Linked DNA regions of Homo sapiens. The protein of the gene in region 2 binds, or shares a complex with, the protein of the main gene of each other region. Each region holds a gene or a part of one and is shown on either strand. Other genes may lie near its edges. The genes, in order: CACNA1E, CACNA2D1 and CACNA1C.

Region 1 (11,668 bases), on a different chromosome or scaffold from region 2:
GCCGGTTGTTCTCACCCTCTGCTCACCCCCATCAGTGGGAGCTGGGGCGCTGCTGAGTCCTCCTGCTGCACTTTGCCTTGGCTGAGCAGCAAGGTTGGGCCCTGAGGGTGGGAAGGGAGGTAGACAGTGATGGGCATGGGATCCTTTGCTGTCTGGGGCTAAACTCCGAACCTCCAAATCAACTTTCCCAATAAAGCTTAATATCTATTAGGGTAAGCATATTTTTGGCTTTTCTCTGGGCTGAAAGGTGACCTCATCTTATGGGAAAGAAAGGCTTGAAGTGGTAATGCTATAATCTTCGTGATCCTAGATACATTGAAAGAAAATAAAAATGCTGATTTACTAATTAACTCCATGCATCTTGTGTACTGCCCCCCTCCCCACCCCCCAAAACATCCTAAACATTCATGCTGCAGGCTGCTGCTCCATGCCTCCAATAAACTAGCTCTTCAAAGAGATCTCTTTTGTATTCTTCCCTTTTCCAGCTGCCTCCAGTGGGAGGGGATGGCTCCCTGCTCTGTTGTCTCCCAGTACTCTCCTGTGGTGCACTCCACATCCCGCCTTGTATTCGAGCCCTTTGTGGGTATGTTTTCCCTTCTCCTCTTTTGAACTGTAAGTTTTTAGAGGCTATGACTGTGTCTAATTTATCTCTGAGCCCCAGAATCCCTGAGAACAATGTGTGGCTCATCAAAGGGGATTAATGAGTATTTGTTAAATGGGTTTATGAATTCATGAATAAGTAAACAAACACACAGCTCTCTCAGGTATCATGGCCTTTGGGTCTCCAGACACTGGTCTCTACTATTTTTTTTTCCTTTTTTCCTCCATTCCTCTTTCTGACCTGATCTCAGGCACTTACATGTCTCTGCTCCTCTGTCCATCCCCCGCACAACAGAGTGTGTTCATCCCTGGCTGCACTTCTGAAGTTGGCTTTCAGAAACAGAGTCTGTAGACATGCAGTGTTTCCAGTGTGTTACCGTGGTCACAGCTACTGAAGGTGAAATGTACATAACAAGTACTTACGTAGCACATACTTATTGTGTGCAAGGTACTGATCTAAGAGCTTTATGCATATAAACTAACTTAATTTTCACAACAGCCCAGTGGAGCAGAATGGTATTATTCTTAACAATTAAACCCTCTGGGAGACTCTCTGGTTCAAGGTCATGCCTTACCTCTCTAAAGCTCAAGATCCTGCCTATAACTTGACTCTTAAGCAAGGAAAATATTATTTTGACATGCAGTATGTTAATAATGGTCACATATTGTGAAGAATCCTGTCCTTATTATTAGGAGATCCAGCTCTGCTATTTCCTAGCTCTGTGCACTTGGACAAGTCCCTGACTCTCTGGGTGTTCAGATAACAGGATGTGCCTCACAGTCCTTCTGCAAAGATGCAATGAGAAAACATTACGGTTGGCACCCAGGAAGTGATGGGTTGTCATAAATGAATGGTTTTTAAAACACTTTAAAACCAACTTTGCTGACCTGTGGTTAGCTGATAGCATGTTGGAGTGTGGGGCTTCTCAGGCTTAGGTTTGAGAGATGCTGATTCTAGGGACGGACATTACATAAGGATGTGAAGTTATGTTTTCACCCAAGTAAGGGCTGTGAGGTATTGTGAAAGCCACCAGACTCCCAAGATGTCTGCATTGCCATAATGCTCCTCTGCTCCACTATGCATTTGCACATGGTCTCCTGCCAACTTTTTTCTTAAGAACCCACTCCCAAATCCTCTCTGCATTATGTTCCTTAGAGCACTGCTTTGCATAAGAGTCTATTTCTTGGAAAAGCTCAACGGAGGAAAAATAGAACAAAAGGGGCTCTGATAACTTAAGCATAAGCTATCTGAGTGTAACTGGCAGGGTGGGGGAAGATGAAGGAGCAGGCCTGGTGGGAGGGGCACAGGCCATTTGGATGAAGCCCACATTCACAGACTTCTCAGTGATGGGTGAAAAATCTCTTATGAAGATGGCCCAAGGCCTGACAGATCTGGGAAGAGCTTAAGAATGAGGGTAATAGGCCAACTGCTTCTCCAACTTTGCCACTCATGTCCATCTGTCTTAGTACAAACTCCCACAGGCTGCCTGATCTGGGGCAGTGTGGACACCTTGTTTTCTGCCTTTTCCAGAAGAGGCTGGAGGGACTACCTACCAGTCCCCTTCACACCTGATTGCAGCTCGATGATACACTGCAGTAGAGGGGCTGCAGGATAAATGCTTTGAAATGTAATAGTCTTCATGGGCTTTATAAAGTAGGAAAGTTTTCCACTTGCTTCCTTAGCTCCTGTTGGGTTTCCACTTTGCAGGTCATTGCTTTCAGAAAAACATGTGGAGCATTTGGTAACCCCATCTTAACTTGGGAGGGTGTGTGTGGGGCTGCACTTTCCAACTACTGTGAGATGGGCTGGCTGCATTGTGGTGAAATTTAGTACCTCAACAAAGTCCCATAGGGGAGTAGAGGGCTGTTGACAAGAGGTCAGAGCCTAGGAATATCTAAGCTCTGAGGCATGGTGCATGGGGTGCTGGGCTGCCAAGCACTCGTGCTCAGTGACCAGTAGATGGTGCTCTGACAACAGGAAAATACAGTTACTGTCCCTCTGAGACTGGAAAGGGATTTTCAGATGGTCTTCAGACTGGTTTCCAATCAGAGTTATGACTAATTGCTAATTTTCCACATTTCCATTTGTGGATCCTTAATAGGACAGTGGAACTCGGGGCACTGGAAGGAGAATGCCCACCAAATTCCCATATGAAGAAATTCCCATATGAAGTCATGCAATACCGCATGACTACAGTATTCTGGTCATGAACTTTTTCTGAGGATCCTCCTGGATATTGAGGGCATGGTGCCAGGAACACTTGGCCTCTGATCAAATTCAATTTGAGGATGGTAAGCATAGCATTTCCATAGGCTTAGTGTCATTGTATAGTTTCTTCTCTTGATAAACAATTTAGAATTACCCTATTGCTGTCCTGAAGGGCAGCATGGGTTTTAGAAAGAGCCGCAGATTGGAAGTCAGATGTGTTAGAAGTCCACACTCTGCCGCTTATCAGATGTGGGCAAACGGCTTAACGTTGCTGAAACTCTGCTGCTTTGTCTGTCAAGGGTCGTGATACATGTGTTACCAGGCTCACCTCAGAAGTTTGGAGTCAGGCTCAGCTGTGGGGCTTATGTAAACTGAAAACTATTAAACACATGTATTATTCAACCATTAAAATTGTAGCCACTGGCGGGGCGCAATGGCTCATGCTAGCACTTTGGGAGGCTGAGGCAGGTGGATTGCTTGAGCCTAGGAGTTGCCAGCTAGGACAACATAGTGAGACCGTCGTCTCTATAAAAAAAAATAAAAACAACAACTGTAGCTGCCTTGGGGGCTGGTAGAATGGGGGATTAGAGAGTATGAAACCAGTATAGAAATTCATAGATCTCAAAGCTCTCAAGAGCTATGACAGCCAGGTGGGGGTGGAAGATGAGAGTCTGTCTTCCTGCTAGCACTGCTGCCCTTAGGCCAAGTCTCTTCACAAAGCCATTTATGCCATTATGTTTGCCCCTTTCCTTTTTGGCTGCACCCTCCAAGAATTATCCCTTTTAACTCACATAGGTGCTGAAACTCCCTAAGGTATTCCACATTAATTCCCAACCTATGCATTTATGATTCCTGTCTCCTTGGAAGGCAAGAAGGCAGATATCAACTCCAGTGTGTCGTCGCATTTGCACATGTAGTATCCCATCTTGAGTATTCTAGGTCTCTGAAGAATTACAACAGCCAAAGAGAATACAGGACGTGGAATACTGGATCTCTGCTGACATCTGATAACACTGAAGAGACAAGTCGGGGATCTCTGATGTTCCAAGAACTAAGTCTGGGAAGTAAAAGGCTAGTGAGCCCTGCTTATTCTGGGCATTGAGAAGGTATGCCGCCAGCCTGCTGAGGCAGAACCACAAAGGAAAGGGGTGAGGTGACAGCATGAGAGTGAAGTTCATGAAGCTTTCTGGCCTGCAAGGTTATACAATCTAGTATAATCTAGTGTAAAAAGCTACATGATTTATGTCATCACCCATCTTGTTCATTATAGTATCCTCAGTGCCTAAAACAGTGCCTGGCACCTGGAAGGGACTCAAAGATACTTCTCTAATGATTTGAATGAATTTTGTGCTATGGATTATGGTACTGTCTGAAAGGAGCGACATACACTTAATAATTTCTGAAAGCCCTTTTTCTAACCCTATGTAGTTTACAGGGATACCGAGATAGCCACTTGGGACTAGTTCTAAGTGACTGGCTGATGGGACTTCATGGTTCACAGCACCACCCTCCCTCCGTTTCACGACTGACTAGGTATTCAGACAGAAGAGGACCCTCTGATTAAAGCAGGAGGAAGGACAGAGTAAGGCAGTAATGTGAAATCAAAGTAACAATTACAGCTGACTCACCTTGAATAGTAATTTCACCTGAAATGGGCTCCCCTGAATCCAAAGGTCAAATGCCTTCCCCAAGGGCAGCAGGCTGGACATGTTGAGACCATTCCTTTGGATTTCCAGTAGAGAATTTTCCTACACACACACACACACACACACACACACACACACACTCTCACATACATTCTCACACAACAGACACATGTCAGTGCTCACAGGGCCTTGCCCACAGACAGACACATACCCGTAGAAACACACATGCCATGCACTCAGACATCACCTCACTTCTCAACAGTTAATCTCACTTCACAGGCGTGAAGCCATACTCACCCATGGTTTCCAACCTCTGGGCTTTGGTCAGTGTCTGTTTCCTTCCTCAGCCCCTCCTTTCCTTCTTCCCTTCCATTGTTCGGGTTGGAAGGATTTGGAGAGGCCTATGTGTTGAGCCAAGGCAGGAAAACACAGAAGACGGTGTGCCCCAGCTAGTGTGGACATGGGAGGGGACAGCTGGTCCCTGCCCTCAGTTCAAACCACCAGTCACCTGTGGGGAAGGGCTTGGCGGCTAAACAGGAGCTCTTTCCCTGGGGCTTGGAGTCCACCTTTCCCACCTCTGCAGCTCAGATACCAATTCTATTTTTTTTTTTTTCTACATTAATGGGTTGGGTTTGAGAAAGTCCGTGGAGCTTATTTGGGAGTAAAGGATGGGGGGCGGGAGGATCCTTCTGATTGTTCGCATTTCGAGAAGGGTAGTTTTAGCCCATAACTCACCATGGAGGGCCCTTCCAGGAGACGTCGGGCAGGGCTTTCCTACAGCGGAACCGGGAGGCCGCCCCGTGAGGGCAGAAGCTCCCGCCAGGAGCCAGCACCACCAGCAGAGTGTGGAACCCCCAGAGGTCCTAGCCTCCTCCACGGGGCCTCCCAGGTGCTAAGTGGGGAGATGGGGAGAGGGTTCTGCCCTCTACTTGGAAATGCCTGGCCGTGTTCGTGGAGCCTGGGAGGTGCGGAGGAGCGGCGACGCGGCCATGGCGCTAGGCGCGCAAAGGCCCCGACACCTTACTAGGGCGGCGGCGGGCCCGTGGCACCGCTCCCGGCACCGAACAGGGCACAGCACTGGGGACACCTCTCTGCAGGGACCCAAGACGCGCGTGCGTGTGCGCCCCACGCCAGGCCCTCGCTCTCTTGCGGAGACTCCGCCGCATCGCTGGCTGCACCTGCCTCTCTCTTCTCGGCATTACTTGGGGGAAAGGGGACTCTTCACTGGACCTTTGCAGAGGTGGCTGCTACCCTTTGGCCACATAAATCAAGAAGGCAAGCCAGCCTCACCTTCCAGGAACCTCCAGCCTTCCGGCTGCGTCCCCGCCCCTCCCGCCTGGCCAGCTCCTCCCCCGCTTCTCCCAGCGCTCTTGCGCGCCTCGCTGCGCCTCTGCGCGCCGCTCGCTGTCCTCTGCCTCGCCTCCCCATTCTCCTTCCGCATCTTCTCCAGTGCTCCGCCGAGGGCGCTGCCTGCGGGGAAGAGGGAGACTGAGCCGTTAGTGAGGAAGTTCGGTCTGTGGACAAGTGTGGTGCCAGGCCGCCGCGAGGCTCGGCTGCAACCTGTTCCTCGCCCGCCGGTGCTCGCCGCCCGCCCGCTCGCACTCCCGCCCTCTCGGCGGCGCAGCCGCGGATCGCTGTTGCATGCTGATCCGGGGAGGCGGCGGTGGCGAGCGCTCCGGGCGGATGCTGGCACTCAGGCTTCGCTGCTCTCTGGATGCTGCTCAACTTCTAGCCCAAGCGCAGGAGCTTTGAAGTCATTTGTCCCTTTTCGCTTGGATCGACTTCTTATTTTGAGATTTTGGGCATTGCGGTTTACGCAGGAACCTCAATATCGCTCTCCCCACCTCCCTCCCTCTTTCTCCAACCTTTGGATGCGTCTCTGCTGGCAGATATAAAGACCCAAGTCTTCGCGGTGGAATTTCTTAGATGGACTTGCAGGGGCTGGCGTTATAAAGCATGTCATCGTAACCCCGTCCTCGTCTTTGTTTATTTTTTTTTAAAGTTCTTTTGTTTTCATTTTCCCCTCCTTCCCACCCCTTCCCCCAACCAATAAATCACCAAACTGTTACCTAGCGGGCCGGTGCCTGCCTCTCTCCCTGAACTAGGTGGTGCGTCTGCCAGAAGAGGAGCTATGTTTGAAGAGCAGCCTACTCCACCCCTCTCCTCTCTGGTCCCTGAACACCACCACACACTGGCATTTTGAAAAAAATATTTTCCTCCAGAAACTGGGCACCCCCAAGCCCTACCACCCGCTTTTTTTTTCTTTTTTCTTTTTTTTTTTTTTCCTTCTTGAGGAATGGAGCTTCGCAGAGGTTGCATTTAGATTCAACAGTTCACAGCGGCGGGCTGCTGCTGCTGCCTCTCCGAAGAGCTCGCGGAGCTCCCCAGAGGCGGTGGTCCCCGTGCTTGTCTGGATGCGGCTCTGAGTCTCCGTGTGTCTTTCTGCTTGTTGCTGTGTGCGGGTGTTCGGCCGCGATCACCTTTGTGTGTCTTCTGTCTGTTTAAACCTCAGGATGGCTCGCTTCGGGGAGGCGGTGGTCGCCAGGCCAGGGTCCGGCGATGGAGACTCGGACCAGAGCAGGAACCGGCAAGGAACCCCCGTGCCGGCCTCGGGGCAGGCGGCCGCCTACAAGCAGACGAAAGCACAGAGGGCGCGGACTATGGCTTTGTACAACCCCATTCCCGTCCGGCAGAACTGTTTCACCGTCAACAGATCCCTGTTCATCTTCGGAGAAGATAACATTGTCAGGAAATATGCCAAGAAGCTCATCGATTGGCCATATCCTTTCTTGCCCACCATAACTCCCTCTCCCCCTTTGCATTTCTTCGGGTGAAGGGGGGTACCTAGCATGGAATGTATCCCCCACCCCTTCCTGGTGCCAATTTGCCCCTTTGCTGAAGCACACTCTTCGGTGCATCTAAGGGGCAAGCTTGGTGCCGTGGAGACCCGTTTGGGCACTAGTGTTTTTCAAGGTAAGACTTTTGGTTTTTTATTTTTCCTATGTGGAAATCTTTAGTGTCCCTGGGTGCATCCCTTTCTGGGCTGGGCTTTGTCTGATTCCCAGCCCCCTCCCCACCCCTACTCCCTTCACATGCCGCCCTCTACATAGATTGGGTTGCCCCAATGCTTCCTTTCATAATTAATTCTCATTTTCCTTTCTTTAAGCCAGCCACTCTGCCCGTATCCCCACCAACCAGGAGACACCGCACTGTCTTCCTGTAGGGAAGTCAAGGCTCCATGAGGGGATTTATCAGTTCAGAAGTTCCCAGGGCCAAAACCCTGTGTACAGATAGACAAATGAATAAATAAAACAGGCTTTTGGGTGGGGACTCAGCTAACTCTAGGGACTTAAGTTTAAGTTCCACTGAAAGTGGCATGAGTGAGTGTCTGTCAGGGGAGGTGATCTCTGTTGCCACAGCCCAAGGAGCTCAAACTTGGAGTTCTCCTCTCAGCCAAGAAAGAGCAGCTCATCAGGCCCATCCTGTCCTTGGTCCTTGGTTGGGTACTCTTGCTTCTTAGTGCTTGACCCAGCTGATTGCTCTCCCAGTATCCAGGATCCAGGTGGATCGGCTGGGCCTGAATTCATCCGCTGAGGCCAGAGGTGTGCATGCAGTCTCTCTCTCCCTAGCTCCAAAGGAACTGCTCTCCCCAAAGCACTGGTGGGGGCCATCTCTGATGGTGGTGGTGTCAGGGTGAACAGGCATGGAAGGAGCTTCTTTGCAGGTTTAATCAAGTGCACCAAATGCAGACTGCTGATTAGGCAGCTCACTGCCTTGTTCTTCACTAAGGATTGGACGCCTGGCAAGGCCATTGGGAATTGGGGGTGGTGAGGCAGTGAAGGGGATTAGTAGGAGGCAAGCTAGTGGTCTGGCGTTAAATATGGGGATGGGGTTGGAGACATGGGACTTTGGGAGGGAGATTTGGGAGGGATGCATCTGCAATGGAGGCCCCTTCTTTTCTCCCCTATTCTCCCTCTTTCCCACCCCCACCGTCCAGGTGTGCAGCAGTGAGGCAGCTGGAGCTGCCTTGGGTCTCTAGTATTAGCCAGACACGCGGCTCATTTCCCCCAGGGCCTGGGCATCTCCCTACTCCCCCAACCCCAGTCTCTGGCCTTCCCCTTCTTCTCTAGTTCCCTGCCTCAGCAGCTCGGTGATTGGCTGGCGCGTGGTGCTTCTAGGCAGCACCCCCTCATTAGAAACGAAGGAGCATCTCTAAGCAGATATTCTTCCTGCTGCTGTTCGCATCCTCCCACAGCAACCCCGGCTGGGCTTCTCCCTCTCTCCTCTCTGCATCCCGCTCCCCTGCTCCACTCTCACAGAGTGATCCCAGGCCATCCATTGCCTGAGTTGAACGTATCTAGCTAGGGTGGAGGTTTCGGGCGGGGGAGGGGTCGGGTCCCTGCAGTCACGCCTGCCGGTGCGCTGCACAAAGCGGACAGATCTCATTGTGTTGTGTGCTGCGGCTGCAAATATTCCTCTAGGCAGTCTACGGATTTCCCAGCTGGGCCCTCCTTTCTCACTCGGCTTCTACGGTTCTCTAAATCTTCCCATCCACCAGGTGCTGCCTTGCTGTGCCCCTCTCTTAGGGGCGTGTTTATTCAGACAGGCGCCCTCCCGTTTCTTTGCGGTAGACAAAGCCGCCCAACCGCCCCGCGGGTGGCAAAGTGTGCCAGCAGCCATCGTTGGCACCTCGGACAGCGCCGCTGAAACTCCCGGCGGCCCGGGGCTCCCCAGTTACCCGGGTTCAGCACCTCGGGTACTTCTGGCCGGGCCCAGCCTTGGAGCTGAGAAACCAGGCACGTTTCCTACACCACGTGGTCACCTTTTTTCACGTTTTCTCTTCCGCTGCAAAGACACCGCCTTTCCACCAGGCGTTGCGAGCGCGCAAGGTGCGGCTGTGAGTCTTACTCCTCCCTTTCCTTGTCTTTGGCCAAAAATGGACCAAAGAGAGTCAAACGGGAGACTCTCGAGGGAGTTGATTTCAGCATCATGCTCAGTGCCTTGGCCCCGAGCCCTGTCCCAATGGTCTCTTTTGTCTGCATAGTTGGAAATTTCACAGTGGTTCTACAGCATGTAGGCTGTGGTAACAGTGTTCAGGGAACATCTGCTAAGGTGTTTAGTGGAGCCCTGTTGGAAAATATAAAATACACCATGTACAATGTAATTGACTAATATATTCCCTCTGGTGGTGACCACGTGGAAACATTGGGCTTCCGTGGGAAACGCACCTAAATTCCTAGTCTCACCTTCCTTTCCTTTCTAAACAAATAACTTCCCAAGTATCTTGCTTTGTCTTATTGGGAGTCAGTCTGGGTAGTGGTTGCCCATAAAGCTTTGGAGCTAGGCTGCCTGGGTTGAAATCCTAGTTCCTTCACCAGCTTTCTGACCTTGAAAATTACTTCATTACTCTGTGACTCAGTCTTCTTACCTGTTAAATGAGGATAATAATAATAATACTGGGAGAATTAAATGACTTAATATATATCACATGCCTAAAACATTATCTAATTACCCAGTAATCACTAGTTGTTATTATTAATGGCATCTTTCAGAAATTTCAGCGTGCCTGAAGTGGGGAGGGGTCTTAGTTCAGGTGAAGTCCTCTAGATTCTTGCCTCTCAAAGAGAGCAAGGAGCTGCATCCACATCACCTGGGAGCTTGCTAAAAATTCAGAATCCTGGGCCCCACTTCAATCCTGCTGAATCAGAATCTGCATTGTAATGAGATCCCTGTGTGATTAATATGCTCATTAAAGTTTAGGAAGTACTTCTTTGCTCTTTGTAAGTGCCAGATTTTTTTTTTTTTTTTTAAGAAAGGAAGGTTGTTCAGTTGTTCAGAAAACATGTCAAGACCTGCTTTCATATTGACATTTGCACATTTAGCATGCTTGAGGATTTTGTTTGTGTTACAACACGTTTTGAGACTTACACTTTCATTGGCTGCAGAAAGTCACTGTAGGACGAGGGGGATAATGTACACTTCTATGTGCCGCATTAGTGGTCTCATCATGCTGTGCATTACTGGTCTTTAATCATGTTTGTCTGAAAAGATTGGTTAAGTAAAAGGAATGGTTTAATTTATGCTTCTAGGATCACCCCGACTTGGAGGGGGAGGGTAATCTTATCCAGTTATTAATAGGGGAGGTCTAGTTCTTATGGGAAGAAATGCTCAAGATAACCCAGATTTGGCATGAAAGATGGTGGCAAGTCAACAGCCTACTCTGAATGTGTTTCATTTTTCTTGGAAGCTACATCTGCATAGGGAGATAATTTTATTTTCTTATGGCACTTTCCTCTGCAGTGGATACCATACTCTTTTTAAAAATGCTAATGTGATTTAAAATGTGATGTTACATTCTATACGATTCCTCGTTTTCATTTTCTTTTTTGCTCATCTAATAGATCTTCTCTGGCAGTTGGCTGTTCTGAGTGCCCTCCCATGTTCACCGTGCCTCATGCTTACCAGCTCTCACTGTTTCATGCCCAGGGCCAGTTACCCTGTGGGCCATACAGCATCTCTCATGTGGTTTGCAGGATGCCCCACACTTGTTTGAACTTTTCCAGGTCACGGGTGTGAAGGCAAGAAGTAGTGTGTCTGGCTTGGAGACTCTATGCCAGAGTTGGGCAATAGGATATTCCCCCCACACCTCCATCGCCTTGGTTGTCTCAGCAGGGGAGAACATGCTTCGTGTGGAAATGAATATGGCTTACAGTAGGAAGGTCAAATATGTTTGCAGCCCTGAGATAATGAAGCTCATCACAATGAACCTGTGGACATTAATCCATGATTTCTTATTGTAGAGAATTTCACTGTATCCCCAAAGCACTCTGGCTATGGATCAGAGGTTGTATGCTTTACTACTGTGAATCTCCCATTGTAAAATGTCCGTTTATTTTGGAGGATTTTGGTGAGGGTTACCAAAAGTTTTAGTTCTTAAATCTCCCATTTTGGTGTCTTCTTTTCTTCTGCTTTTGTTGCCTATAAATGTATAGCACATTGCAGGATAGTAGACTGAGGTCCCGGTAAGAATTTCAGGTTTGATGTAACTAGTGAATCATGAGTCAAGATGCCTTGATTAGGGAAGATGATGGCAGCTAACAAGGATGAAGTCTGTAATTATATCCTATGATCAGATAATGCAGAGGGGTTCATATCTTCTGTGTACCTGTGCGTGGATGCAGATGGTGAAACAGATAGTGACTGCAGCTGGTAC
Region 2 (10,669 bases):
CAGATCCTTTTTGTTATGAAGCAAAAGGGTAAATGCCATCTGGAGATCTTCGTTTAATTGGCAGGATGTTCCAGTCAGATATTTTTAAACATAAAAAGAGTAAGAATCACCCTAAGGATGCTTCAGAATTATTTACTCTTATTAAGGCATCACACTTCCATTTAATTTTTTAAGTCTGTTTGTTGCTTGGCCTGTAAAGTGAGAACTCAAATGAGTCGCTTGCATTCTGTGTCAAATAAATAAGTGGCTCTTTAAAAAACAATCACTTCCTAAATGTGTTCCGATTACTCATTTTTACAGTGTTGTTTTTAACTGACAATTTATCAATATTTTTATCATGGGAGGGGATACATCATCATACCATTGGGGAAAACTACAACAAAATACAACCTTTTATTCCTCAACATACTGTGGTAAAATATTAATGTAAAAATCCTTATTGTTAAGAAGAACATCTGCAATAATGCTTTCCTAAAATTATAAGTAAATCAATTTTCATGGTCAGAAATTTACTAGACACAAGAAAGAGTATATATAGTGGGTTAAAATGGGAAGTAGGACATCACAATTTCTTTTCTTTGGAAGGATCTGAAATTTTTTTTAACGATGAAAATTCAAGATATTTTCAAATTATATAAGACATTGATTATTTAATGAATGAAATACTTAATAAAAGGTTTTGTGGAGCGAAGTCAATCTCCTGTAGGTAATCTTAACAATATTTTTGGAAGCCTTCTGCATCTTCAGTTTTTCATTTGAAAAGTTAGTAACACTGTCTTCTGAGGAAAGAACTGATGGTTGACATTTGTACTTCATGTTAGATTTCTGAATAAACTTTATGAAATTAAAAAATGCAATATTTTTCATAAAGATGTGCCATTTGCTTTTCTTTCGAGAAAAGAATTCATATGCACTGTTTAATCAGGACAAATCTCAAATCTTTGGGGGAAAATTTCAAATTTATAAAAACTGAGTGCAAAGACTGTAGTGTCAATAAAGGCAAATTATTATGCTTCTGTATGTAAATTTCTCTCGGAATCATTAGTAAATATTTTTGGGTTTTTTTTTTTGCCAGTTTCATTTTTCACAGAAAAAGTAATGTAAGAAGTTTTTATCAGCTGAAGAGGAAGAGCATGCCATCACACACTATAAAATTAATTATGCACTAATTGGAGTTGGACTTCAATTAGAATTAGTAGTTCAAAGTTTTTTTTTAAAAATATAGAGTGTTTACATTTGTGTGAAGGGCTTAAATTCTATTATGGTAAAACAAATGATGTGTCAGTTAAGTATCTTCTTTCATTTTTTGCTCTCCTGTTTAACATACATTCTAATATAAATTTTCTTTTGGATTAAAGTAGTAGTTAACCTGTTCTAAGAGTTAACACTAAAATAGATGTTTTTCAGACAAGGAAATTTTGATATGATTATTTCTCTGGGTTAGGTGTTTCTTTTGGAAATGTTTGTCTCCCTAAGGTGTGAAACATAAATACATGATATGGTAGCAGCCACATAATGTGTATTGGTTGATATATAAATGGAAAATATATCATTTTTATGCTATAGTATGCACATGTCGTATTGGTATTTTTAAAATGTAGCTTTCAAAAAGGGTAGTTGTCCGTTTTTCTAGAAATAATTTCTTGTCACATGTTAAAAGACTTCTATTTTAATATTTAGAATTACATGTGTGATAGCCAGTATTATAATGGTAATTTAAATTTGTCCTTAATTTTAGAATCTATTTACAAATGCAATTAAAAAATATATAGTTATAACTGTTAATATCAAACTTTTATCTCAGTCACATCAAAATGCCAGTCAGTCTACAATAATTGGCTGAGAGCCTATTGGTATACAGGGATTTTAATATAAAGTGTACAATGGTATAAATATAAAACTAAGAATTGTGGATATCCACAGGAAATAAGCATAAATTCTCATAGAAGTATAGTACTTTTGGCTTTAATTACTTAGGATATTTTTTTTTCCTGTTATTAGAGAAATTTGTATTTAAGGCTATAAAGGAGAAATTTTGTATGTCAGGATATTGTAATGGATATCTGTTCCATGCATTATAAGTGACATAATTATTCTCACTTGAAGTCAGCAGTTTCTGTTTACATTTTACATACACAAGGAAATGTGCCATATGATCAATTATGAGATAAAATATTAAATGTAAAATAAAACCTGAAACAGTGAACATTAATAAACTTTTCTCAAGTCTTTAATTTTGTTCTCATCGGCTTAACCATATAACATTTACTATTCCACAGATGTATGTTTTAAAATATGCAACAATAGATATATTTTTCCACGTAAGTAGTAATATTATGTTAAATTTATTAATGTTACACATAGCTATATGTGTAGCTATTTGGATTGGCATTTGAATGAAAATTAAGCAGACTGAAATGGATATAATTTTTGAAAAAAATGTAAGAAAATACAAGAATCTAAGCATATTATGGTTTATTAAAGGGAAATGAAATGTGCCTTTATTATCTCCCCCTCCCATGGCTTTCATTAATTTAATTTAATAAATATACATAAAATTTGAATATAAAGTAGGTGGTTCATTTTGACAATAGATAAGAGCTTTACAGTTGTTTTCTTCACAACAAACTGACTGTGTAGACATCTTTCTGTTATTTCTCCAACATTGATAAAACTAACAATAAAATACTCTTCTTTCTAGGGTTTACACATAGTAAATTTTTACAAAAACATAACATATGGAAATTATTATTGTGCTAAAATTTAGTATATATAGGAGTATATATTCATAAACAATAATGCATTGAGAAATTTTACAAATAATTTTTACAATAGTGCTCATAACAAACTATATAATTTACATATTCTCTGGAGTATCATTATATAAAGCACCTCTTAAGGTTTCTCTTGATTTCCCTATTTCTCAATATAGATGCAAGTTTCCAAGAATTTCCTAGCACATGTCTTCAAGCTATTTATAACTTTAAATTGGAGATTTAAATGGGTAAAATGAAACATATCTTAGGCAAATCATGCAATTTGTTGATCTCATTTAATGTCTTATATGTATGGACATAAGCATTTCTAACGTAAGTATACATAACATTTTGGGAAAAAAATCAGAATTTCAGTATTTCAAAAAAGTAACATTTTATTGTTATTAAAATGACAACGGTCCATTATTTCTATTAAAAGAGCTGTCTGTGGTAGTGTTTCAAAAAGCAGGTCAGCTGCTTTCCATGGGGAACAAACTTTGTTCTATTATATCGCCTCCACATTTACTTAAGGCTTACAGTGTGCATCAAGCACTGTGTCACTAACTGTGTCAACCAGTCTTTCTTTTCATGAACTATCTGTGAGCAGTACCACGACTGTTCCCAAGGCTTTCATACAGTTGCTTTCCAGTAAACTAGGAATGGGCTGTGATGGCCAACCATGTAGCTTACACAGGATTCATTTTTTTGTATGTGCACTGAAACATGTAAACGATTGCGTAGTGTTGTTTACAGAGTTGAAAGAAAAAGGCAATTGACCTCAATGTCAATTAAGTAAAAGTGGCAGCACTTTGTGAAAAAATACTATGTTACTACCTTTTCCTTGAGAGTCCAAAATATTAACATCGTATAATTAGATAACTTTCCTAGTTTGTGTCACTATATAGTATTCTATTTAATAGATAGTATTTTATGTATATGCAAATACACATATATACGTGTGTATGTCCATACATATTTTTAAAACTTTAAGTGGATTGACAGAGTAGAAAAACCTCAGTAAGGTAAGTTTATTAACAAGTGTGCATACCTTAGGTCTTCTGTCAGTCCACAACTGTTTTCAGGGATTAAATCTAACTTAATAACACCAGCATTTAAGAATGATTTGCCAAGACAATTAAATGAGATATTGCATACACAAGCAGCCTGAAAATGCTCAAGTCCTATAGAGACGGGTTACTAACATAATTGACAAGTAATTAAAAAAGTGATTCTAAAGACAGTTTTGCTGTCTTTTAAACAAGTGTGAGAAAGAAACTATACCATTTGAAATGTTGGCACCTATTAAAAGTTCTTTACATACTAAGCAGTTTTATTTCTTTCATTTAGATAAGATATACTTTGAAATTTAGAATTAAACATATTTGGTGGTGTGATATTTTAGGAATGAAGGCAAATGTGCACAGGTTTAAAATTTTTATTTGTAAAATATAAGCTCTTAAATATCCCTTCTTTGTAGGCTTTACATCTTTTGTAGTAATTCAGTACATAGAATCAGCTACTCTTAGCAGTTTTTAAAAATGAGTAAAGAAAGCGGTCATTGCTCCTTTATATTTTGCCACTTGTTTGTACAGGTTATGAACGAGGAAAAGATTGACTTTGTGGCCTCAACAAACCGGCACACTTTTTATAGTTAATTTCAATAATTCAGAATTAGGCTGTTATATATAAAGCAATATTTGAAGTTCTCTTTGAATATGAATGTGGGATATTTCTGGCTAAATGTTATTTTAACATTTGCTTCTGCTGATTTTTTTTAACCATATGCTCTGTGGATTTAAAAAATTAGGATACATTTAAAATTCTGTATCATAAATGGAAGAAAAACTTGAACTGGTGGCAGTAGAAAATAATGGTGCTGGCCATTTTAAATGCTTCAGATTTGGGGATAATCTTACTGTCTATTTGAAGCTCTTTTTTTCTGTGTAATTAAAAATACGCTATGGTGGTCTTCTGGCAAATGATGGAAAGCAATTCCAATGTTATTTTATTCAAATAATAAATTCTGGTTTCTCTCTCTTTCATACACATGCATATAATTACTATTAACCATAACATTATTATTTGTATATAACATCAAATCAAATGAAAAATTTTAAAATGTGTTTCTCTTAAGTTACCCATGATCAGACCTCAATTTCAGGTCCTTTTCACTTCAATCTGTGCTCCCTGTTTCAGATTTCCTGTTATCACCAGACATTTCTCTCTAAGAGAAATTGTTGAGGGATTTTGATATACAGATAAACCTGTAATATGTAATCAACACATACCAAAGTTGTCAAGCAAGTCTAGAGAATTGTTTCTTTTGATATTTGCCCAATACCTTAGGGATAATTAGGGAAAAGAGGGGAAAGAGCTAATAAAATTTTTCTAAGGTGCATACTGTCAAACTATGTGAAGGGATGGTTAAATATTAATAATGCCATATTTTGAGAGTTACAAGAGGGATGGTGCAATGAAATAAATGGGCTCAGGCAGACTGCAAAAATCTCTTGTTTTTAAAAAGTGAGCAACAGGCATTGTGGTGAAAATACTCTGAGGAGTGATGGATGTGTAAGTGGGGCAGAGAGAAGAGCCCTCAGATTTATGAGGTGCAAAATTACATTAAAGATACTAAAGGTAGCAGTTGGTTATTTTTCTTAATGCTTCTGTTTTCTTCATTTCCCATATGAGCTTGGTTATATTGGAAATGCTGCTTCCTAAACATAATAATCATTTTTAGAGACTTAAATATTCACATTTGGAAATTCACCTTAGAGACCAAAGACAATAAAATTATCTAGATCTCAGAACATAAGTACTTAAAAATTCTTAGTTTTTATGAAATTCTGGGAAATGGTTTATTGGATAAGAAACACTAGTATAACATTTAATTAAGAGCTTAAGTGCTAATCAACAAGAAAGAAATTCTGTTAGAAAATTTTTTTCATTAGATTACAAGAAAGAAATAACTTGCAGGTAAGCAGCCTTCTAGGTAGTATACTTAAAACTAGGCTTCTAAATAAATAGTACATTTTATTTTTGAAGTTGTTTTAATTTATATTGCCTTTTTAAATATTTCTTGTTTCAAATATTTTTTAACACCAAATATAATTTAATTCAACAATTAACGTGATGATGATTATTATTCAGTGCAAATTACGTACTGCGCTGAGCTACATGTTGAGAATACAAACTGAGGGAAGAGAGTCCCTAAGGAAAACATTAGCAACTCCAAGCTGACTATGGAACACTGGGATACATCAGAGCATGACCAAGGAAAAAGTACATTGCATACTGAAGGGGCATGGTCTAAAGAAACGTGGTCTGTTCTTTGTTAGGCATTGGACTTGTCAATTGGAAGTGATGTTGGTAGCTATTGGCTTAAGTCTGGTTATAAATTTCTTGCATCCTGACCCAAGGAGGGGATGAGCAGTGCTCATATTACATCGACATTTGCAATAGCCCTGTTTGGTGTACCAACACAAATTTGGTCTTCTATCCTGTGTTGCTGTTGAGATTTTTAAATTAAAAAAAAAAAGTAATAGGTTTGAATCATAATATGTAGAAGATGGATTAAGGCGGGCCAGTATATTAGGCAGAGGCAATGAGACTAGTTAGTATACCATTGCAGCATTCACTGAACCAGAGATGATGCCCGAGGTTTCAAAAAGATTAGTGGCAGTGAGAAGGTGAAGCAGGTATGAAGTAGAAGTACAATTTCAGGACTTGGTGGTTGTGAGATTTGGGGAATCAGGAAAGGAAGAAGAATTGGAGATGACTTTTAGATCTCTAACATGTAGATCATGTGTCATTAAATTTTGTAGGCTAGAGAACACAGGAGGAATGCAGGTTGATGTTGTGAGAGTGGGAGTAGGTTGATCGTTGGACATTTGGAGTTTGCAGTGTCTTTTAGATGTCTGTTAGGCCCTTAGAAATATGTATCTGGGCCGGGCATGGTGGCTCACACCTGTAATCCCAGCACTTTGGGAGGCCGAGGTGGGCAGATCATGAGGTCAGGAGAGATCGAGACAATCCTGGCTAACACGGTGAAACCCCATCTCTACTAAAAATACAAAAAATTAGCCGGGTGTGATGGCATGCGCCTGTAGTCCCAGCTGCTGAGGAGGCTGAGGCAGGGGAATCACTTGAACCCGGGAGGCGGATGTTGCAGTGAGCCAAGATTGTGCCACTGCATTCCAGCCTGGGTGACAGAGTGAGACTCCGTCTCAAAAAAAAAAAAAAAAAAAAAAAGTATCTGAAGAGAGTTTGGAGACAAATTCAGAGAGCAATACTTTTGAAGGCAGAAGAAGGATTTTTTTCATTTATTTAACTCATATTTATCTATAATCTACTAAGATAGACACTGAGTTTCAAAAGAAGGGCCTTGATTTACAGTTTCATTTTGTGGAGAGGTCAAACTAGATGACCCCTTAAAGGAAGTCATCAGGCCACTGATGAAAGAAAGAAGTCTAAGTAGCGTGTCAGGGACAGAAGCATGGTTTCAGTGGCTTGAGGAGTTGGTCAAGTTGAGAATATGGAGACAAGTGCAGATTGTTTCTTCCAGGAATTCGGTGACATGAGGAAAGTGAGAGATAATAGAGTAAATTCAGAGGAAGACATTATCCTTAGCAAACTAACACAGGAACAGAAAACCAAATACTGCATGTTCTCACTTATAAAGTGGAACAACATAATGAGAACACGTGGACACATAGAGGGGATCAACACACACTGGGACCTTTCAGAGGGTGGAGAGTGGGAGGAGTGAGAGGATCAGAAAAAATAACTAATGAGTACTTAATTAAGTACTTAATTAATAACTAATTAAGTAGACTTAATGCCTGGCTGATGAAATCATCTGTACAACAAACCCCTATGACACAAGTTTACCTATGTTACATACCTCCACTTTTACCCCTCAACTTAAAAATAAAAGTTAAGAAAAAACAATAAATAGTAAGTTAATATTAGGCCGTTTGGGATTGTAGATTGTACAAAACCATAGGACTATCTTAAACCAAAAAGAGAAATATTTTTAAATGGTAGTGGAGCTGGATGATCCATCATGGGAGTTCAGGTCAAGGATGTTCCAACAACTGCAGAAAAAGGTGAGACTGCTATCATGATAATCTCTCAAGTCATTTTCTGCTTTTCTTTGTGTCACTTCTTTCTTCTCTTTCTCTATAAATTGGCATTATCTGCCTCCAGTGCTCATGGTGTTGAATGGTTGCGAGGGATTATGCTTTCTCCTTTGAAGCCTTGAACCAGCTTGAGTGTAGAATTCTAGTCCTAAAGATAACCTCCCAAAGAAGATGTGTTGACAGTCTGAATGTGGGCCAGATGGCCACTTACAGTCCATTTAATTGTGACCAGGAGATGGGATTTGGAAAAGAGACTCTGGTTGCCTGAGCTTGGGTTAGTTCACCATATCTGGTCCAGTCTTCTTAGGAGGTATTACATGGTAAAAGGCCAGTTGCTATTACCCTGGATAGGGGAAGAGCCGATTCTCAGAAAAAGGCTCTGGTGAGAAGGGTGGGGAAGGTGTGGAAGGCTGTACAGACAACTAAATAGTGTTACCAGAAGGGAGATTCCAGTATCTCAGAGGGAGAAGACCAAATGTCAGAGAGATGAAAGCAATGAGATGCCATGATTGATGGATGAATGTTCTGATAGAGGCAGGTGAGGAAGGGATCAAGACTAAACACAATGTCTTACAAAGTAACTTTTGAAATATGAAACAGCCTTGAGAATTAAAGCAGATGGTTGGAATACAGGATAGATATAATTTTAATTTACTGGAGATGTTTTTAGAGGAATGATTTAAATTACATATTCCATTCTCAAGAAGGAATGACATAATTCAGAAATGTAATACATACACATTAGTAATATTCAAATTTTGAGAGGAATGGACTAGAGTTTTTCTTTCAGTGGTAGTAACAAGACTCCAGTTTGCCACTATATTACCTTTGGACACAGCAACATTTGGTTCTCACTTGTCTTTATTTTTCATTTACTTCTTTCCTAGGAGAGATTATCATCTTAAAGATTCATGTAGTTTTATAACATGTCGTTAGAATTTTTTTTTTTTTTTGAGATGGAGTCTCACTGTGTCACTCAGGCTGGAGTGCAGTGGTGTGATCTCAGCTCACTGCAATCTCTGCCTTCCGGCTTCAAGTGATTTTTTTGTCTCAGCCTCCTGAGTAGCTGGGACTACAGGCGCACGCCACCACACCCGGCTAACTTTTTTGTATATTTAGTAGAGATGGGGCTTCACCATATTGGTCAGGCTGGTCTCGAACTCCTGACCTCAAGCAATCCACCTGCCTTGGCCTCCCAAAGTGCTAGGATTACAGGCGTGAGCCGCGACACCCAGCCGATGTCATTAGATTTTAAGTGTGTGGTGCTTGTGGTAGAAAGATCTTCCAGTAATATCATTGAAAAAGAAACAGATAAAAGAACAAATAGTTCTTTCCTTTGGCAATTGAGCATTACTTATTCATTAATTTTAAGCAGATAGTAGTGGTTTACTGCCCCACTCTATTGGTGCTTCCTGCCCCCAGTAGAAGGGAGAAGTTTTGGTCGAAACAGATCCTTGTCAAGAAAAGAAAACAGTAAACTCTAGAAGATTAAAAAACCACTGGAATTTGGGCGAGGGCTCGCTTGTAGGCTCAGCTGTTGGGGAGGCTGAGGCAGGAAGATCGCTTGAGCCCAGGAGTTCAAATCTTGCCTGGGCAACATAGGCTCATCTCTAAACAAATAAACAAACAAAAAACTGACAGAATATCCCTGCAAAGCATATCCTTGGTTAAACCTCACTGAGGCATCCCAGGTCTCTTGAAGGTCTGGAAATTACTGGCACTTGCCATCACGGCAGTTCCTGAGTTTCCAAGATGAATGAATGAATGGTTAGGATTGCAAATGCCAGTGGATCTAAGAATCAGTCTTCATCTCATTGGTACCATTGCAGTGTGGAAAAACCATGCTTGCGGTTTGTGGCAAGAGATAAGAAGAGTTAGGGTGGGCTATTTATTTCCCTTTTGTGACTTTGCTCTTTTTTCTCTCCCATAGATATTCACAGTTTGAACTAATTTTGGTGTCTCCACCTGCAGTGTCTGAACAGTAATAATTACTAACAATCATTCTTCAATTACAATAATATTGTTTTCTGACATTTTTGAGCTCCTTCTGTATGCCAGGCACTATTAATTAGTACTCTCCAATTTTTTTTTTTTTTTTTTTTTAAGACAGAGTCTTGTTCTGTTGCCCAGGCTGGAGTGGAGTGGCGTGATCTCGGCTCACTGCAACCTCCACCTCCTGGGTTCAAGTGATTCTCCTGCCTCAGCCTCCCTAGTAGCTGGGATTACAGGTGCGTGCCACCATGCCCGGCTAATTTTTGTATTTTTAGTAGAGATAGGGTTTCACCATGTTGGCCAGGCTGGTCTCCAACACCTGACCTCAGTAATCCACCCACCTCAACCTCCAAAGTGCTGGGGTTACAGGCGTGAGCCACTGCGCCTGGCCTCATGTTTTTTAATCCATCTAACCTTCAAGGCAATCCTCGGAGATAAGTATTATTATTATCTTTGTTTTGTAAATGCGGGAACAAGTTTAGGGTATGAAGAACTTTTTTGAATTTCCTTAGGAGTTCAGATTTGATCTCAAGCAGCTCAATTCTAGATTCCTACACTTACCTGCTGAACTTTGCTGCCCTTTGCAGAAGCTTTGAGGTCTTAGCATCTATTATCTCGCCTGGCTGCATATTCCAGCAATAAGATTGAGAGAGAGGAGTCATGTAAAGTAGAACATAACTAACTCTCAGCCTTGATTTCTCCATCTGTAGAACAAAGATAGTATTTTTGCTTCCTGCATCCAATGTTATCGTGAGGATTAAATGAAAGAATGCGTGGGGA
Region 3 (9,133 bases), on a different chromosome or scaffold from region 2:
CCGCTTTGTTTACCTAATCAAACAACTAACTCGGCAATGGCGGGTGCCCCTCCACCAGCCTCGCTGCCACCTTGCAGTTTGATCTCGGACTGCTGTGCTAGCAATGAGCGAGACTCCGTGGGCGTAGGACCCTCTGAGCCAGGTGCGGGATATAATCTCCTGGTGCGCCGTTTTTTAAGCCCCATGGAAAAGCGCAGTATTAGGGTGGGAGTGACCTGATTTTCCAGGTGCCGTCTGTCACCCCTTTCTTTGACTAGGAAAGGGAATTCCCTGACCCGTTGCGCTTCCCAGGTGAGGCGATGCCTCGCCCTGCTTTGGCTTGCGCAGGGTGCGCTGCACCCACTGTCCTGCACCTACTGTCTGGCACTTCCCAGTGAGATGAACCTGGTACCTCAGTTGGAAATGCAGAAATCACCCGTCTTCTGCGTCGCTCATGCTGGGAGCTGTAGACCAGAGCTGTTCCTATTCGGCCATCTTGGCTCCTCCCCTAGTTTTTTTTTTTTAAACATCTTTAAGAGAGTTGTTTTAAACTCTTTGTCGAGTAGATCTGCCATCAGGTCTTTTCTAGGAGCAGTTCCTGTTAATTTATTTATTTTTCCTTCGAATGGGCCACACTTTCCTGTTTCTTTCTTTGCCTTGTGACTTTTTGTTGAAAACTGGACATTTGAATCTAAGAATGTGATAACCCTGAAAATCAGAGTTTCCTCCTTCCTTAGGGTTTGGTGGTGGTGTTTTTGTCTTTTTTAGGCCACTCAAGCATCGGCATGAGGTGTAAACTTCAGGTCTTCTTAGGTGTTTTCTGAGCCTGTTTCTTTCCCAGGGTATGTGCAGTCACTTTCTAATTTTCCTTGTATATGCAGTTGCTTTTGAGTGTCTTAGTCTTTAATGTCTGTCTCCCAAAGAAGGAAAAAGAGAAAAGTGAAGGGGGAAGAAGGGTGCTGGTTCTTCAAATTATCTGGAATCACTTCAGCTAGTGGTGGAGGGGCTTGCAGCAGTGGGGAGAGGTGCAACAAAAGTAGCTGCCCACCTCTGTGTTTGCACCTCTGTGATTAGAAGCAGCAATAAGTATCCTGAACAAAGATCCCTGAAATTTGAAGAACAGGATATTTTTAGCCCACTCTGGCCTCTACACGCTGTGTGCAAGGTGCTATTGGACAAGTGCTCAGCTGCCTGTATTATGAGATAAATAGTACTTTCTCATAATAATAATAGGTTCTGCTGGTACTATTTCCACCCAAGGAAGTCACACTGGTTATCTCTTCATGCCTGTCTATGCAGTGCTCACCCTTCCAGGAGTAGAAAGTGGGCTAGGGGAGGAGAGTGGGTTAGCTGCTACTGTACTAAGAGCTGAAATTGACCAAAATCAACCTTGATTTACTGTCCAAGCCTCCCCCTGAAAGTTGCAAACCTTCATTAGACTCCAGAGTTTCAAAATATTAATAGTTAAACAAAACAGATTCTGCCAGTGTATTTGTTGTCTATCGGGGAGGATTCTTGGTGCTCCTTACTCTGCCATCTTCCCAGAATCCTCTGGGACAAATTATTTTTACTTAAGGGGTTATTCTGAAAGGTTTATCGAAATCAGATTAAGTTATAATAACAAAAAAAAAGAAAAGCAATCTTACATTTGTATAGTCCTCATAGTACTTTATATATTATCATATCTCCCCCTCCTTTCTTCTCTCCTACATTCCATCCCTCTTCCCTTCTGTCCTTTCAAAACCAATTTCAGAGACTGCTTTTCCTGTCTAATCCATGTGAATTAGCCATTTAATTCCTCTGATTTTGTCTCCTTTTTAACTTTTGGCCATTTTTCTGTCAACTCTTTCATGAGAAGGAAGAAATAGGGGATGGGTTAACTGCTGAATGGACTTAGGTATTATCATTGGATTCATATTTCCTGTGTTCTCTCCAGTCTTCTTCCTTTTGGGGATCCCAGACAGTTGAGATAACTGAGTGAAGTTTGTATTTGTGACCTCTAGGAAACAGGAGAAAGGAAGAAATAAGGAAGAGGGAAGATACAATGAAGTCAATGTAGACATTGTTAAGAAATTTATTTGCAATTCTTATTTTTTGTGTTTTTTGTTTGTTTTTTAAATAACATCATTCCTTAGATAAAAATGCAATCTTACAGGAATATACAATAGTGTCTCACACAGAGATGACCCTGAAGCTCTCCTTGAAGGGTTGCCCCTTCTAGATTCCCTGGCCTTTCTCGAGGGTGAGAAGGCCCATCAGGCGAGGCCTCTGACAATGGGATTATTTGAGGATTACAAACTGTACAATGATATTTACAACAGTAAGACTGTGAAGTCGTGGAGCCTGGAGGGGAGGGTGTGGGGGTGTGTAGGGGTGTGGGGAATGGTGACAACGGAGGCACTGCCCATCTTTCTGTGCCTCTCTGATAACAGGCATGATACAGATTGGTTTGGGGGATGAAGGTGGGTTTGAGCTGGAGGACATGAGGGAAGGGGAGATTAGAGGAGCTTTATCTGGAGCGTTTCACAGGAGGAAAGTTTTGCATGGTAGCTCTGGTGGATTAAAATAAAACAGCAATATTATGAGAGTAATAGACCTTTCAGTGCTTCACCAACGGGGAATCTGTCGCCCTATTTCTTAATGAATGTGCGTGTTTTGCCATGGGTTATTCTCATCCACTACCATCACAGACTTGTCCAGACATGCTCATCTCTGTTTCCCATGGCCTCACTCCCACGAGGCTTGGGGGAACAGCATGCATTCTGGCCAGGACAGGACATGGCAATGGGGTGGTATATAACCTGGCTGGGATTCAAGAGATGGATTTCAGGTGTGGGTATGGGCTGCAGCTGGATGCATAGGTGGCCTGAGGCAGGAAAAGAGAAGGTGCGCACAGCTTTGGGATGCTGGAGACACCTCCTGAAGGGGATCTTTCTGCACAGGACTGTGTGTTTACAAATCATCTTCCCTTGATGTACAAGTTCTTTCCTTTTCCCCTTTTAAACATTGGTGTAGTTTCTCCATATTGGGAAGTCTTGGGGTTGGGGGCTATGTCCAGGACCCAGTGACCCACCCTCTTTTGCTTCTCTTGTGACTCTACAGGAGAGACTTCTCTTTTCTCCTGGCCAATGGCCAGGAGAGGTTTCTTCAAGGGGGTCCCTGAAACCTGCAGCCTCAGGTTCCTTGGCAAGGGAGCCACTGCTTGGCCTGGTGCCTGCTCACCTTTTTTTCCTTATTCCCTTGGTAATAAACTTGAGATCTCTAAGATTTCCACAATGGGAATTCTCCAGACCCAAACAGTGAATAAGAATCATTCTGTCCATTTCTGCATTTCCTCACATAGAAATGACCCTCTCTTAAAACTTACAAACTCTTCCACCCAGAGCTTTTTTTTTTTTTTTTTGGATAATGACCTTGGTTTGAGGTGCATGAGTGAATTTTAGAAATGAATGTACAATGTATGTCTGATTCACACCAGGGGAAGTGGCACAGTGCCCTTTCTGGGATCCCTACAAAGTCAAATTCCTTAGATCCTGAGAAGTGGAGTGCATGGGATGCCCTGAAAAGGTGGGGGTGTCCCTGTGTAGCAGCCAGTAACTGATCTGAAGGGAGAGGACTTGGCTCTGGTGATGTAACATTTCAAGCCTCTGTGTAATTACCTAGTCTTAGTCTTTTCTTCCTCATTCTTAGTAGAGACGTGGGGAACTTTCATGAAAAATGCTAATTCTGACTCCTCTCAGCGTGCAACAGATTTGTTACACTTCATCCACTCAGCTGCAAGATCTAGAGTGCTTTCAGAGGTGACTGGAAGAGTTCTCTAATACCCTACAAAGACCATGGATCTTTGCCACTTCAGGTGCTGTGGCTCAAACCTCTTAAAGTCATCCCAGGAAAAAGTGTTGATTGTAGTATTCTCTCAATGTATGTAAATAGAATTTATGTCATAATAATAGTAGGTTCTGATGGTACTACTTCCATCCAAGGGAGTCACTCTACTGCACCCTCCTTGTCTGTGTATACAGTGCTCACCCTTGCAGGAGCAGGAAAGTCCCTCATCTAGAGCTCAACCCCAGCCCTTGTGCCTTAACGGTGTGTGTCTGTGTAGTGAGGGGGGTTGTTCAAGCATCCCCCGTCAATGTAGAGATGTGGCAGAAACCCGTTCACCTGTTGTATTGGTATCTGGCTCCAGAAAGAAAAGTTTCATTGCTTTGACATAAGAATAAATTGATGAATGAAGTTAAACCCAGAAGAGGCTTCACAAAGAGGTCGTGTAAGCATCTGCCCATGGGACTCCCTTCCACGCACCGTCTTTCTCACTAGGTGTTGGGGAGGACAGGGAGCTGGGGCTGGGGAGGGCAGTGGGAAGAGGGAGCTTTGCTTAGGGACAGGGAAAGGTGCCCCATTCCTGACAGTTGTAGGACTTTTCTTTCCCTCCTGTCTTCCCCCTCAACCTCCTCAAATCGTAGCCTCTGGAGAACCTGGACTCTGGCGGCTGAGGGCCTCCCTGGGAGTGAGGTTTGGGCTTCCCCGCCTGTCTTTGCACAGCAGCCTGTGTCAGGTGGCACCTGGACAGCCTGAGGGGAGGGACATCAGCAGAGGGGGGACAGGGTGGCAGACACCCCCACATCCCACCAGGTAGGCTGATGTGGCTGGAACAACACCCCCAGATGGAATGAGTACTCTTCTCACCTTCCCAAATAGATCCTTGAGATGTCAGCGGCTCCACCACACTGGTCACTGTGGGTGGGTAAGCTGAACACATCCTTCCATGAACTGGGAAGAGGCACAGAGGGAGTCAAAATATGCCCTTTTCTTGCCTCCATTCTCCTCCCAGTCCTCTCTGTGCTGACATTTGCCCCAGAGGCAGGTCTTCTTTAAAATATGGAAACGGCCCAGACTCCATCAGCAAGTATTTGCCTCCCCTGGGGTTTAAAGAGGTCTTCTGGGAGTCAGCAGGCCCTTTTTGTGGCCTCTTTGCTGAATTGTTTCTAATCCTTGACAATGATATTTCAATTCTTGGCCTCTAGGGATGGAGATGCCATCATCCTCCTTTACCACCTTTCCCACGATGAGGCTAAAAACCCCGATGACCAGGGTTCCACTCTATCCCTGACCTACATTCGTGTTTTCTTTCTTTGCCTTTAGGAGTGGTGGCTGTGTATCTTCAGGACTCCATAAAGTAGCCACCATCTTTTGGGTGACTTCCAAAGTCCTCATTTTCTAGGTGTCACTGTTGCTCAGGAGATGAACTTGGGCATGGAAAGGTCTGCTTCTCCTGAGGTTGCCCCACTGTCTTCAGCTGCATGGGCAGGAGACATGCTGGGTGGAGAAAAGCTGGGAGAAAGTAACGGGTAGCTTCACTCCAGACAAGCACCTGGAATTTGGAACTGGGAAATAGAATGAGAGACATTGCCTTGTTCCTTTGAGTGGATTTCCCAGTGAGAGTGAGGCCTATTGGATTAAGAAGAAGGAAAGGGGTTATAACTAGTACCTTCTGAATCAAAGCTGGGAAAAATTCTCCAAGGTCTGGAAATGAAAGAGGCAGGGCTGGTCGGAGGACAAGAATTAAGTTGACCAAACTGCAGACCTTAAACTGTTGTTTCTTCAAGTCCCTTGGGCCCTTAGCCCCTGACTGTTTTCTCCTGACACTTGGGGGCTGTCAGGAGGGGTATGGAAGATGTGACAATTATGTTTTACAAGGTCATGGGGAAAATTCCATTTTAGGTGGAGAGTAGACATCACTTGGAAGATTGTGCTGTGGTTCATTGATGTCACTACTTGTGCCAGTCTGTTCTGATGACAGGCATCATACGCCAGTCTTATTCTAGTGGATCAGAAGGTCAAGCTAGGATAGTCCTCCTGCCCTAGACAGGGAACGCCTGTGTGTACCTCCTGGTAGAAATCTTGGGAACTTTTCAAAGGATGATACCTAAACTCAATTTCTAGAGGACCTTGATGGCAGTGAAAAGGAATCAAGAAAGTTTGGATGACTTGGGTGTGGATATCCATAAAGAAACTCTGTTTCTAGACTGTGTTAACCGGGGAGTATTGAGTACATTTCTCCACTTTGTCATGAATCAGTCCAGCAAGCTGTCATAGAGGAATGGACTGTCCCTTATTGTAATTTCTAGCTTACTTATATATGTGCCAAGAGGGGCTCAGGGAACACTAGGACTGGAAGAGATTTAATGGGTCAATTCTGGGTGAATGGTTGGGTCCTGTTTTCCCCAAAGCAGTCCCTTTTCAGCCACCACTGTTGACATACATTTGAAGGACACAGCACCAAAAGAGTGATGTTCTAGGGAGATATAAGTGAGCATTAGAGATGCCCCCACAAAAATCTGTTCCCACCCCCACTGTGAGCTCCGGATGCCTCTTCCCTTGTCCTGGCCCCCTCCCCGGCAGCCCAAACATTAGGGCAAGCCTGAAGGAAAGGCTGCTCCAGAGTGAGGAAGGGATGGAGAAAGGAGCACGCAGAGTTGACTTTCAGATGGATCAGGGTTTCACCAGTTCCTTTCTCGAGCCCCTGCTGTCCTTGTTGGGTAGAGCAACAAGAATCCGGAAGTGAGGATGCCCCTCCCTCCAAGCAGCCTGACTTTAATTTTATCCTCCCGGTTAGTGTACACTTTCCTAAGGAAGCCAAAGAGAAAATTCCGTGTGGTGGAAGGGAAGGGAAAGCCAGCTACCTCTTCCATGGGGGATGCGGATGACGGCCCAGTGACTGAGGGCTCATCAGAACGCCTCCCTGCACCTCACAGTGAAGGGCTGTTCTTGGAGAAGTACCAAATCAGATGACCAGAGCAGAGTGGACAGAGTGAAGACTGGAATAAAATAGGTCCTGGTCTCTCACAGCAAGAGGCGGTACAAACATACCCAGCAAACGATTTTGGAAAAATTGAGGGAAATGTAAGCAAACACAAGATATGCAAAACAGTAATGTCCAAACCTGTTTGTGGAGAGCAGAATAATGACTACACTGGTGATACCTTTGCTCATTGTGCAAACTAAAGAAAACTTGTTCCCTTTCCCCCAACCACATATAGAAAAGCACTTGAGTTCAAAGGTAAAGCTTGTCACACTCCAAATACAAAATGATTTACTTTACATGCAGCAAAATATACAAGAAGTGAATCCGAAAACCAACTTAATTCAATTCATTATATTCGCTTGGCACAATTGCAATTCAGTTTTAAAAAAATATTTGAAAAATACTGAAACTGACCTGAATTCAAGTATAACGGTTTCTTCAACAGAAACATTATCAATGCAATAAAACATTACACGGAATATATTGAAGCAAAATGCCTTCTTGTGTTTTTCCCTTAAATTTCTGTCTTTTTTTAAAATACAGTTTTAATGCCAACACAACTCACAATTGTATTTTTAAATGAATATTATTGCATTGTTTTTGCATATCTTGTGGGACAGAAAATGCAAAGAGTTACTGATTCCCGTTTCAGAAGCAGAGACAGTGGTTTGTTTTTGCTTTCAAACGGCCCCAGATTCAGATCTTCCCACAGCTAAACCAGAAAGGGGGGACTGCGTAGTCACTGGTGTGCACGGGCACATGGTGTGGGTGCATATACACGGGCAGGACATATGCACACAGACAACCCACCACACACACACGCGTCGCACACACTCGGAGACTCTCTCGCGCATGCTCCTCTCTCCCAAACCCACCTGTACACCCAGCATAAAAAGGAACCCAACTCTATCACCCACATGTGCAAGACCACATCAAGTGCATTGCCAGTTACCTTTCCATTAGATAACCGAACCAAACCAGAACAAAAATAGGTTACTACCTAAGGAAATGATAACAAATTATTGGGCATACACAATGGTTGGTAAAACTCTCCTGCAGCGGCTTCTATTGAACCTCCGTGGAAAAAGGAAACCACAACCGTTTAAATAATACAAGAAAACCAAACCCGATGTACATTGGCAAAAGTGAAAACAGAAAGGTGAGGGGGCTACAGGACTTTGTAAACACTCTTCTTCCTCCCCTCCCGCTGGGAAAGCAAAATAAAACATTTAAAAAAAACCAAAACCGAAAAGAAACTGCAACATGCTGTCAAGAAAAGTGTCAAACCACAAAACAAAAGAGCGCTCAGCGGAAGCTCAGCACCACCTGGTTGGGCGGAGCCGGCGGCGCAGCTCCTCCCTCGCGCTGCCTGCGGGCCGGCGGCTGGCCGGGAGCTCGGCGTGGCCCGTGCCGGTCGGGGGATCCCGTCGCAGGTGGGCAGGGACGGAGTGAGCCGCACCACTGCCGGCCCGACGCCCATCCCCAGAGCTCCGCGCCCCTGGAGGCCTCCTCCTCCCTCTCCGGGCCGGGTTGGGGTCCTCCTGGAAGTCCTGCCCCGCTCCCTTCTCCAAATCCGCAGGGCCCTGGCTCTAGGGAGACAGCGAGGCTCGTACAGAATATGTGCAAATGGTTTCTACAAGCAGAGTCGAAAGACACCCGTTTGCTGTAGGGTCCTTTTGGTGAGGGCGCGCGGGAAGCCGGGGTGCTCTCCCCGCGGAGGCGCGGCCGGGCCCGGGGCCTGCGAGCTGGGAGAGGGCAGGCGCCTTCCTCGCGCCCCGGGACCCTCGCCGCCTCCTCTCCCCGCCTCTGCAGACGCAGCCGGGCGCCTTCCTCCCGGAGGGCGGCTCGCGCACCCAGGCTCCGCGTCTGGTCCCAACAGAAATGAATGAAGACGCTGTTCCGGTTAACTCCAGGTCACGAGAACAGTGAGGCACTTCTGAAACGAACCCATTAGGAACATTGAAACAAATAAAAAAAAGCCCGCATCTGGCAGCGCCCACTACAGGCTGCTGACGTAGACCCTGCTGTCCTGGAGCTCCTCCTCACTCGGTCGACCCCGCGCGCGCACACAGCCCGCGTCCTCTTCGCCCCCGGCTCGGTCCTGCCCCGCGTCCCTGCAGTTCACAAAGGGTAAGAGGGCGCCATTGGGGCTCTGTGGGGCGCCCCCGCTGAGGATGTTGTCGGCCGCGCTCTCCATCTCCTCTATGGTCATGTCGCAGGCGTCGGCCAGCTCCTGGGTGGTGACCTCGATGAACTTGGGATCTTGAGCAAACTGCCCCAGTCCTTCTGAAATCAAGACCTGAAGGAGCGGGGTGGGAGCCATGAAGAACCAAAGGAACATTACTC

What was found.
Region 1: the proteins of CACNA2D1 (region 2) and CACNA1E are in contact, whole or in part, in a cryo-EM structure (PDB 8EPM), measured with the Homo sapiens proteins. Residues at the interface, in NP_001353796.1 of Homo sapiens: Thr170, Asp171, Tyr173, Ile233, Leu235, Ser261, Gly262, Ser263, Ser265, Gly266, Leu267, Lys270, Ala327, Lys328, Gly329, Ile330, Thr331, Glu366, Gln391, Asn393, Tyr394, Ile416, Gly417; in NP_001192222.1 of Homo sapiens: Gln110, Leu112, Pro113, Glu114, Asp115, Asp116, Lys117, Pro119, Arg122, Asn630, Phe631, Asn632, Asp633, Gly634, Ile1330, Gly1331, Asn1332, Val1334, His1336, Met1341, Val1343, Arg1346, Arg1393, Ser1394.
Region 3: the proteins of CACNA2D1 (region 2) and CACNA1C are in contact, whole or in part, in a cryo-EM structure (PDB 8WEA), measured with the Homo sapiens proteins. Residues at the interface, in NP_001353796.1 of Homo sapiens: Thr170, Asp171, Tyr173, Ile233, Leu235, Gly262, Ser263, Ser265, Lys270, Thr274, Ala327, Lys328, Gly329, Ile330, Glu366, Gln391, His392, Tyr394, Ile416, Gly417; in NP_955630.3 of Homo sapiens: Phe147, Pro148, Glu149, Asp150, Asp151, Ser152, Asn153, Ala154, Asn678, Lys1090, Gly1091, Asn1092, Tyr1093, Ile1094, Tyr1096, Gly1099, Val1101, Pro1104, Ile1106, Arg1109, Tyr1156.

Annotation. Positions count from the first base shown.
Region 1 is NC_000001.11:181,476,777-181,488,444, forward strand, and holds the start of CACNA1E (voltage-dependent R-type calcium channel subunit alpha-1E), read left to right. Parts: upstream 1-6,740; 5' UTR 6,741-6,967; coding exon of another isoform or gene 6,968-6,968; coding exon 6,969-7,234; intron 7,235-11,668. UniProt on the Homo sapiens protein: Voltage-sensitive calcium channels (VSCC) mediate the entry of calcium ions into excitable cells.
Region 2 is NC_000007.14:82,431,369-82,442,037, reverse strand, and holds part of CACNA2D1 (voltage-dependent calcium channel subunit alpha-2/delta-1 isoform 1 preproprotein), read left to right. Parts: intron 1-10,669. UniProt on the Homo sapiens protein: The alpha-2/delta subunit of voltage-dependent calcium channels regulates calcium current density and activation/inactivation kinetics of the calcium channel. Plays an important role in excitation-contraction coupling.
Region 3 is NC_000012.12:2,690,853-2,699,985, reverse strand, and holds the end of CACNA1C (voltage-dependent L-type calcium channel subunit alpha-1C), read right to left. Parts: exon of another isoform or gene 9,087-9,133; coding exon 8,787-9,086; 3' UTR 2,036-8,786; downstream 1-2,035. UniProt on the Homo sapiens protein: Pore-forming, alpha-1C subunit of the voltage-gated calcium channel that gives rise to L-type calcium currents. Mediates influx of calcium ions into the cytoplasm, and thereby triggers calcium release from the sarcoplasm.